Homo sapiens: one gene and its partners. The protein of the gene in region 1 purifies or fractionates together with the protein of each later gene. This does not show direct contact. Each region holds a gene or a part of one and is shown in the gene's direction. Other genes may lie near its edges.

Region 1 (3,265 bases):
TCAGGCTTCCAGCTGGCACTCTGGAGTCATCATCTCATTTTACTCCAACCACATTCCTAGAAGGAAGACAGTTTGATTGTCATCAATGATGCTGAGGTTCAGAAGGATTAAGTGATCATTTAATGTTACTCAGAGGCCGAAGCAAAACGGAGATTTGTCTGTGTGTAAAGTTCTCATTCTTCCTACCACACCACACTGCCTTAAAATGTCTCTGGGTCTCACACCACAGCAGGTAAGTAAGGGGTTTGCAGTTCCTGACCTGTTCTTCCCTGTGTGTGGGCATTCTTTCAGTGACTGTTGGTAGACATTTTTGACAATTCTGGCTGATTCCTTTGAATGTCAAGGATAAAACTCTCTTTCACTCTGCCAAGTTTTTCACCAACTTTCATCACCCTGGCAGGAATTTTTCTAATCTATTTTTTAAACATTCTAGCTGTGAATAGTCATAGATAATTTACAAAAGAGAAACCACAAATAGCAAATATACAAAATTATTTAATCACTCTAATAATAATGGAAAACAAATTCAACAAGGTGTCATTTTCACCTAAACTTTCTTGGCATACATTAAAACATAGCAGAAAAATGTTTTAGAGATGTTATTCAATGCTTGATGTCACTGTAAATTGATAAAGTGCTTTGGGAAAACAATTTGACAATATGTGTCAAGAATTAGAAAAATATCACAGTCTTTGACCTAGGTCACACTTTAGGGTACTTTTGGTGCCCTATTCCAAACAAGTGATTTGAAATGCACATACAGCCTATATGCTCAAATATGTTCTCCAGAGCATTCTTTATAATACTGAAATACTGGGAACTGGACTCAAATATCCACTGACAAGTAAACAGTTACATCAAAGGGTACACTTACTGGAGGGAGTAGAATATAGCCCTTAAAGACAATGGTAGGATAATCATACAGCAAGCAGAAGACCCCATGAATAATCCAAGGGGAAAAAACCAACCTTAGCGCTTATAGGTTATAATATTGGCCAAAAATTCAGTAGACTTTTAATCTGCAGGATTGGTGATGATATGAGAAAACAGACATATAGTACTGGAATGAGGACTCAGTGTGGCACTAAGGGCCAAAGGCAAACATCAGATCTTTTAACTTAGCTGGAAGGCTCTATCCTAAATGCCCCAGGCCACAGAGACAGGACTACTCATCTCTACTTGTTTAGGAATAGTGGGGTAAAGGGCTTTTAATCTGCAAAGGTTTCAAATGAAATAAACAACTGTTGATGTAAATCCACCCATTTTATTAATAGTTTTGTGGTAAATTTAGGGACAATCTGTATGTTTTGGTATTTAATTATTGGCAATATTTTAGAGAATGTAGCATATAAGAACAGCTGTTGGATTAAACCTGTGATGCCAGTATATGGGTTACTATTAAGTAACTAATTCTTTTTCTTTTTTTTTTTTTTTTTTTGGAGACAGGTTATCGCTCTGTCACCCAGGCATGGAGTGCAGTGGTGTGATCATGGCATATTGTAACCTCAACCTCCTGGGTTCAAGTGATCCTCCTGCCTCATCCTTTCAAGTGGCTGAGACTACAGGAGCAAGCCAGCACTACTGGAAAATTTTCTTTTCCCTTCCTTCCTTCCTTTTTTTTTTTTTTTTTTTGATGGAGTCTTGCTCTGTCACCCAGGCTAGAGTTCAGTGGCTTGATCTTGGCTCATCACTGCAGCCTCCACCTCCTGGGCTCAAGTGATTCTCCTGCCTCAGCCTGCCAAGTAGCTGGGCCCACAGGTGTGAGCTACCACGCCTGGCTGATTTTTGTATTTTTAGTGGAGATGAAGTTTTACCATGTTGGCCAGGCTGGTCTCAAACTCCTGACTTCAGGTGATCCTTCTGCCTTGGCCTCCCAAAGTGCTGGGATTATAGGTGTGAACCACCATGCTCAGCCAAGTAACTGATTTTAGGCTTGGGATTTTTAGTAGGAAGTTATAAGAGAATTTTACTAAGTTTTGAACCAGTATTGGAATTTGTAAAAGAATTAAGATTAAATTTTATACATTTATTAGGTTTACTACAATCAAGTAATTGAGAAAGTTTTGCTAATTTAAAGTCATTTAAAATATTTTTTAAAAAAGATGTAATATTTTAATATTTAAGTTGAAAATAACCTGAAGCCTTGCCCAGTGGCTCATGCCTGTAACCGTAGCACTTTGGGAGTTCAGTGCGGGAGGATCACTTGAACCCAGGCATTCAAGACCAGCCTAGGCAACATGGCGAGACCCCGCCTCTACAAGCAAACAAACAAAAAATTGGCTGGGTATGTTGGTGTGCACCTATGGTCCCAGCTACTCAGGAGTCTGAGGCAGGAGGATTCTCTAAACCCGGGAAGGTCAATGCTTCAACGAGCTGTAGTCATGCCACTGCACTCCAGCCTGGGTGACAGAATGAGACCCTGTCTCAAAGAATAATAATAATAATAATAACTTAACCTGAAATAACTTGAGTTTAAAACATCACAGGAATTAAGTAAGTGTGACAAATCCTTAAGAGTTATTGTCAGAGTTCACCAGGTTTTTAAATAGAACAATGTGATTTATAAATTAAATAAAAGGGCATGGGAAAATTAGGCTTTTGAGTATATAAATGTAATAACAAGAATCAATTTTAAAAATCAAAGTAACTGCAAATAGTGCAGTTACCCCCTCAAGTATAGTCTCACATTGACAAGAAAAGGTTTTTAAGCTACAAAGTGAGAAACCAATGCACAGAACATGAACCGAGACATGTAAACCAGAAGAAAGCAAAACAGCATGTTTCTATTTGTGCATGATAATGGATGTAAGTGATAGAAATAGGTCTGAGAAAGTAAACTCCAAGCACCTAACTGTGGGTTCCTTCTAGGCAAAGGAATAGAAACTGGAAAAAGATGAAGGGAGGCTGTCATTATTAGTGTATCTAATTATGTGTTATTTTATTTTTTAAAAAAGTAAAGAAAAATGTAACCTTATGTTAATTAGTTAATTATTTGAAAGCAAAAGTAATTTTAAATTTTGAGTGAATCGAGTCTGGGACATTAACTGCATCACAGGTGCAATTGTAGAAAATGTCCGGTAGGTGGAGCACTAATACAAACCTGTGGGTCAGATTTCTTTAGCAAAAAAGAGAGGACCAGCATTCAAATGGAGTCAGGAACTTTTAAGGACAGGGCCACTAGTCCAGAGCCATGGGATATATTTCCAAGCCAACATTAGATGGTTTCATAATTTTAAAATTCATCTTTTAGTTGGTTTAAAAGAAT
Region 2 (3,654 bases), on another chromosome or scaffold:
GGTAAAATATAGTTTGGCTTAGATAATATGAACGGATAATTTTTACCCACACAAATGTCAGAATGTTCAAAAGTCACACAGGAAATGGGGCAGTTCATGTCAGATAGTCTCAAGCCAAGAAGGATGTCTGACTTTATGGATTCCTGCCCACCACATCTATTAGCATTACCCTGTCACTGTAACCAGTAGCAGTGTCCACCACGATCACCCTAGGGGACAGTACTGTCCCTCTTTAAATTTCTGGCCTGGAGTCCCAGGACAGCCTTTAGGGCCTGAAGAAGGTGTGTAGGCAGAAGTATAGATACAGCCTCTGACTGTAGAGACCAGTGTCAGCGGAAGGCTAAGGGCGTCTGTTTCATGTGACCTGCCGTTATGCCCTCTGTGTACCTGGGTGTGAAGGGCTCAGGAAGGGTGCTGCAGCCTGGCCTGGGGGACCCCCCTAATATGCTCTTTTTTGCAGAAGCGGGCCCAGGATGCTGTGATCATCCTGGGGGGAGGAGGACTTCTCTTCGCCTCCTACCTGATGGCCACGGGAGATGAGCGTTTCTATGCTGAACACCTGATGCCGACTCTGCAGGGGCTGCTGGACCCGGAGTCAGCCCACAGACTGGCTGTTCGCTTCACCTCCCTGGGGCTCCTTCCACGGGCCAGATTTCAAGACTCTGACATGCTGGTAGTGCTCCCAGACACCCTATACATTAAATACAAAGGCGAAGGCTGCAGTCCCCTAAACTTCTCAGCTGGGACTGATCTTTTTGAAAACCAGAACCCCAAGTGAGCAGTGGGGATTTGGAATTCAGTCTGAGCATTATTATTTTATGTCATGTAATTAGCAACGATGATTATCTATTACGTATATGGGATTGTGTTAGGCGGTGTTCTTGTTTGATCCTCCCAGCTGCTCCATGAGCTGGATCCTGTTACCATCCCCAGCCATGGATCAGGAAACTGAGGAACAGATTAGCAACATAAAGGAACTCAAGTCACACAGCTAGGAGGTAGCAGGACCAGGATTCAAACCCACAGAGTCTGACGCTGGCTTCCCGCCCCTTGGCCACTGTCCTGCCTTGCTGAGGTCGTGGGTAGCTCAGTCTTCCCCTCAGCTAAATGGGGAAGCTGCCAGAGTCATTAAGCACTGGTGAGAGGCAGGAGCATCGTGTCCCAGCCTCACTCAGCCACGTGTTCAGCACACGGGCCCTCTCCATATGCTTGAAATCTTTGGCCTAGAGTCCCAGGAAAGCCTCTAGGGCAGGAAGAGGGTGTGTAGGCAGAAGTGTAGATACAGCCTCTGACTGCAGAGGCCAGTGTCAGCGGAAGGCTAAGGGCCTCTGTTTCATGTGACCTTCCGGGCTTAGTGCAGCAAACCGAATAAAAGAGTCCCCATCCTCATGGAAGCTGCTTCCTCATGGAAGCCTTGGCAGTTTCCTTTCGAGAGGCTTCTTACCAAATGGGAGGACATCAGAATGATGAGTGTGAAAATGCAAACAAGAAGCCCTCAGAACTCTGGTGGGAAGGGTCACTGTTATAAATTAAAGGGGCCTTCACCGCATTTTCTCTTCCTACCTTAGACTCCTCTTCACTATCTGATTATATGGTGTTGAGCAGACGTGTCATTTCCCCTGACTGGCCATGCTCACACACTAACAGGCACTGTAGGCTCAGAAAGAGCACTCCGTTAAGGTGTCCTCACCTCAGACTGCTAGTTTGAGAGCCCTGGAACCAGTGTAAAATGGGAGTGAATAATGAGTGGGGTGCAGAGATGGGGTGAATTTAGAAGGAAGTGCGGGGTGCCTGAGGGTGCAAGCTGTGTCTGTATAAACACAGATGACAGAGACAGGCAAACCTGACCTCTGAGGTGTTGTCCTCAACACCTCTGCGTGGGCCCACACTTGCAGCAGCTCATTTAGAATGTGACTCAGACTTTTTAACCGGTAACCAGGATTCTTGATTTCACAACTTTCCTGGTTTGGCTCTCCACCCTTCACCTATGTCAGGCATGTTAGAATCCCCCGGGGGTGCACTTGGAATATTCAGATGCCCTGGCCTGGTGCCAGACCAGTTTCACCGCCACATCTGAGAGCAGGACCTGAAAGCTGCCAGGGGCCTTTGTGGTGCAGCTGGAGCTGAGAACCACGGTCCTGGAGGAAGGCCCCTACACATCTTGCCTACCAGTCTCCTGAGGTGCTGTGAGCATTCTCACCTTCATTTGTTGCTCTTCCTTCTTGGAGCATCTCTCTTAATCCCCTGCTTCCAGGATCCGACCGTGTTCACCCCGGGAGGCCTTTGCTAGTCTCCTGAAAGGTCGCTGGAGCCCATCAGTCAGTTCTGCCCAGCTGAACATCTTCCTTCCTCTGGTTCCCCGTGGGAGGCTGGGGGACGTGGCTGGGGCTTCTTGCCAGCCCGGATGAGGAGGGACACAGCTGGAGCTGATGTTTATTAAGCTGATTAAAGGGTTTTGCTGCTTGACACGCCTTGGTTTCAGGGAAGCACTATCTAGGGCCTGACACCAGCGAGCTACTCCCTCCCACCAAGGCTAGTTGATAAGAAGGTATGAACCTTAACCACAATTGGAAAAGACAGTGCTCGTCTCCGCTTCAACCCACGGTGGAAACACCATTTCTCCCCCCAGGCTTGCTAATAATAAAGCCCCGTGGTTTTCAAACTCTAGCTGGTGTCACAGTCCCCTGGAGAGCCAGCACTGTTAAAAATAGTTCCCCCAGTGCTCCATTCCACCCCCAAAGATTTTGACCTTGGGGGTGGGCCCTGGGATCTGAGGTTTCACAAGCTTCCCAGGTCATTCTGATGTAGCTGTGCCAGGAACCATGCTTTGAGAAATACCGGGATAGCCTTAGCGTGCCTCTGACTTTGTCTTCCTCTTCCCAGGAAGTGAGAGTTCTGGGCCATAAATTCCGAAATCCAGTAGGAATTGCTGCAGGATTTGACAAGCATGGGGAAGCCGTGGACGGACTTTATAAGATGGGCTTTGGTTTTGTTGAGATAGGAAGTGTGACTCCAAAACCTCAGGAAGGAAACCCTAGACCCAGAGTCTTCCGCCTCCCTGAGGACCAAGCTGTCATTAACAGGTAGGTGAGCGGCCCAGAGTTAACGGGGGATGCCCTCTTTCCAGCTGGGGGCGTTCAGAGATATAAGATCTGCCTCTGTTTTTTTTCTCTCATACAATGTGGACATTCTTCTGTCATTTGGAATGTTCAGGAACCCTGTTCAGCATCTACTATGTGCCCCAGGCATCTATCTTGAAAAGCATGCTTTGTTACGTCCATTTAACAGTTGGGTAGATGGAGGCTCATAGAGCTAAATAACTCCGCTTCGGTCACGGAGATAATAAGCAGGAGAGCTTGGGCATGGCCTGGGCTTATTGGACTTGAGAGTTTGTGCTCTGTCCATGTTGTTTCTCCAATGCTCTTACTCGACACTGTCCAGGAGAAATGTAATGTGAGCCCCATATGTAATTTAAAGTACTCTAGTGACCACATTAACACAGTAAACAGAAATGAGTGAAGTTAATACTTACTTAAAATTATAATTTATATTTAATGTTACAAGTATTTAAAAAAACGTATATTTAAAACACCATAAAAAGTATTAATTCGCTGTTTTTACCTTCTTTTGCCTGTACCAAGTCTTCAAGAGCCA
Region 3 (3,654 bases), on another chromosome or scaffold:
ACCACTTGAGTCCAGGAGATTGAGAGTGCAGTGAGCCAAGAGCATGCCACTGCACTGCAACCCGGACAACAGAGCAAGACCCTCATCTGCAAACTATATATTTTTTTAATTTTTTATTTTGAAATGGAGTCTTGCTCTGTTGCCAGGCTAGAGTGTAGTGGTGCTATCTTGGTTCACTGGAACCTCCGCCCCCTCCCCGGGTTCAAGCGATTCTTCTGCCTCAGCCTCCTGAGTAGGTGGGACTACAGGCGCACACCACCACGCCCAGCTAATTTTTGTATTTTTAGTAGAGACAGGGTTTCAACATGTTGGCCAGGATGGTCTCGATCTCTTGACCTCGTGATCCGCCTGCCTTGGCCTCCCAAAGTGCTGGAATTACAGGCCACTGCTCCCAGCCTGTGTGTGTGTGTGTGTGTGTGTGTGTGTGTGTGTATTTGTATTTATATATATTTATATATATTTTAAAAGATGCAGGGCCCCCCATTAACACTAGAAGAAATGGATCCAAAGATGGAGAGTATTTACCCCCAAGGCTTGGTATGAGCTGCTTTAGAGATTGTCCACTTCAGGTTGCAGTAAGCCAAGATCAGGCCACTGCACTCCAGCCTGGGCGACAGAGTGAGACTCCATCTCAAAAATAAATAAATAAATAAATAAATAAATAAATAAATAAATAGAGATTGTCCACTTCAGGTTTTCTAATGCCACACTGGATGTTCCAAGGAAAACCTAAGAGAGAAAAACAAGTGGCCTTATTGGAAGATGGAAGAAGTGAGAGCCACAATAATTTGCTGATGTTTTCTTTTTTTTGTAAGTTCAACCCTTATCAAATATAGTCCAGGGTCCCAGAATTGGGCTAATCCAGACCAAGATTTATCTTCTTTTAAGTCTCTACCTCTTGATTGACACTCATTCCTCAAGTCAAAGGAGAAGGAAGGAATGGAAGCTAAGAGTGGTACCTTTCCAGAATTTAATACGAATCAACAAAAGTTGGTAGCATTATTTACCTATCAGGCTACTTCCTTTGTTTCTGACCTGTTTTTGTTTTGTTTTCTTCCCTCCTCTCCCCTTTACACCCACTCCTTACACACAAAGGTGATTTTAAAGGATGTGGACTCACTTCTCTACGTGGACACCGATGTCCTCTTTCTGAGACCTGTTGATGACATCTGGAAGCTTCTGAGGCTGTTTAATTCCACCCAGCTTGCAGCCATGGCCCCTGAGCACGAAATCCCCAAGATTGGCTGGTACAGCCGCTTTGCTAGGCATCCTTTCTATGGCTCTGCAGGAGTTAATTCAGGAGTCATGTTAATGAATTTAACTCGGATAAGAAGTACCCAGTTCAAGGTAAACGAGTGCTTTAAAATTCCTTGTTTAAAGACTGGGAGTTGGTCTTGTCAACAGTGGCACTACCAGAGTGTCAATATGCTGATTTTGGAAATTGGGTGGCCTATAGGTGAGGATAAAAGGAACCAGAGAAAAGTATTTAGAAAATTATAGAATATTTGTTTATTCAGGAAAAGCTCAGATGGCAATGGAATTTAAAGCTTCAGCAAAGTCGCCATTCAGGAATACTATGTTGCATTTCTGAATTCCATAATGTTTGAACGCTTCATACCCAATGCTTCAAAGACTATGTAAAATTTCTTCAAATTACCCTAGGGATTATTTATGTAAGTCCGTGACGATATTTGTATAAGGATGTTCGTGATCTCATCTTTTATCCTAGCAAAGAAGTGGAAAGAAGCTAAAAGAACATCAGTAGAGAACTAGTCAAAAAAAATTATCCTCCTGGCCAGGGGTGGTGGCTCACACTTGTAATCCCAGCACTTTGGAAGACCAAGGCAGGTGGATCACTTGAGGCCAGGAGTTTGAGACCAGCCTGACCAACATGGCGAAACCCTGTCTCTATTAAAAACACAAAAATTAGCCAGGAATGATGGCGCACACCTGTAGTCCTAGCTATTCAGGAGCCTAAGGCAGGAGAATCGTGTGAACCCGAACAGCAGAGGTTGCAGTGAGCCAAGATCACGCCACTGTACTCCAGCCTGGCGACAGAGACTGTGATTATTTGTATGCCTTAGAAATTTCCAGAAGAATTAATGGGGCATGGTGTCACGTGGCTGTAGTCTCAGCTACTTGGGAGGCTGAGATGGGAGGATCGCTTGAGCCCAGGAGGTCGAGGCTGCATTATAGCCACTGCACTTCACCCTAAACAACAGAGTGAGACCCTGTCTCTAAAAAAAGAAAGAAAGAAAGAAAAAGACATGTCCAGAAGAATACCTAAGAGACCATTAATTGTTAACTGTGGATACGTCTGGGGAAAATGGGAATGGGATATGGAAGAAGAATATTTTTACTTTTTTATTTTATATTTTTGTGTGCTGTTTGAATAATTCAGTCTGTGAATATGTTACTTTTATTTTAAAAGTAAATCATTGTTTAAGACAAGGAAAGGTGTTTTTCCTTAAGATACCTGAACTCTGTTATCTGTATTTTGTTCCTTCACCTCACAGTGAGGAAATAAGCCTAAGAAAGATGTTCACCTAAGAAAGGTGAAGTAGAGTAGAGAATCCTGAAGTAGAGACTGCTGTTGAGAAAGACTTCGCCTCTTAGGTGTGGGGACTCACGCCTATAATCCCAGCACTTTGGGAGGGAGGTGGGTCACTCGAGGTCAGGAGTTTGATATCAGCCTCGCCAACAGGGGGAAACCCCATCTCTACTAAAAATACAAAAAGTTAGCCGGGCGTGATGGCGTGCACCCGTAGTCTCAGCTGCCTGGGAGGCTGAGGCACGAGAATCGCTTGAACCCGGGAGGTGGAGGTTGCAGTAAGCCAAGATTGTGCCACTGCATGCCAGCCTGGGCGACAGAGCAAGACTCTGTCTCAAAACAAAAACAAAAACAAAAACACAGGAAGGAAGGGAGGGAGGGAGGGAGGGAAGAGAAGAAAGGAAGGGGTTCAATTCCAGGCATGGTTTTCTGAGTAGAAACCATAGGTTCAACTTTCAGTCCCTGGTCTATCTAGTATCCGTGTGTACAGCTGAAAAAAGCGATACAATCAACAGCCCAAATTTTGCTTTGTTCTGTGACCTGAGAATAGCAGGACCCCTCCTGTATTTGTTTCCCTCCTCTGAAGGGAAGAAAACTAGTCCCTTTACATTGTTTCTCAGTGGACAAAATGTATTTGCTTTGCTTCAGCTGTTCTGATGGTTTTCTTTTTTCCAGAACAGCATGATTCCAACAGGCCTGGCTTGGGAGGACATGTTGTACCCTCTGTACCAGAAGTACAAGAATGCCATCACGTGGGGAGACCAGGATTTATTAAATATTATTTTTTATTTCAACCCAGGTAGGTTATCTTTGGAGAATGCCTTTTGTGTAGGAGTACACTCAGCACACCCCACGGAGCACATTCCATGCCCGGGTTGCTATTGACTAGGCTTGAATTGTGCACAGAGGAGCCTGTGTTCCCCAGCGAAGTTTGCCCTTTCATCCGCCCCCCTGGGTATCTGATGGAGGCGGGGCCTTGCACTACTGACACAAAAGGCCAAATGTTGAAACTTCCAACACTGGACTCATTTTTAGAGAGTATCTTTTAGGTTTTGCTATACCATTCTTCTAAGAAGTGCAGTTAAAATTGATGTGAGGCGTGA

What was found.
Region 2: the proteins of BST1 (region 1) and DHODH purify together in Homo sapiens (affinity purification with mass spectrometry; one large-scale study listed by BioGRID and IntAct). This does not show direct contact.
Region 3: the proteins of BST1 (region 1) and GXYLT2 purify together in Homo sapiens (affinity purification with mass spectrometry; one large-scale study listed by BioGRID and IntAct). This does not show direct contact.

What each region holds. Positions count from the first base shown.
Region 1 is NC_000004.12:15,727,031-15,730,295, forward strand, and holds part of BST1 (ADP-ribosyl cyclase/cyclic ADP-ribose hydrolase 2 precursor), read left to right. Parts: intron 1-3,265. UniProt on the Homo sapiens protein: Catalyzes both the synthesis of cyclic ADP-beta-D-ribose (cADPR) from NAD(+), and its hydrolysis to ADP-D-ribose (ADPR).
Region 2 is NC_000016.10:72,011,590-72,015,243, forward strand, and holds part of DHODH (dihydroorotate dehydrogenase (quinone), mitochondrial), read left to right. Parts: intron 1-460; coding exon 461-673; intron 674-2,883; coding exon 2,884-3,083; intron 3,084-3,654. UniProt on the Homo sapiens protein: Catalyzes the conversion of dihydroorotate to orotate with quinone as electron acceptor. Required for UMP biosynthesis via de novo pathway.
Region 3 is NC_000003.12:72,954,003-72,957,656, forward strand, and holds part of GXYLT2 (glucoside xylosyltransferase 2 precursor), read left to right. Parts: intron 1-1,095; coding exon 1,096-1,347; intron 1,348-3,226; coding exon 3,227-3,350; intron 3,351-3,654.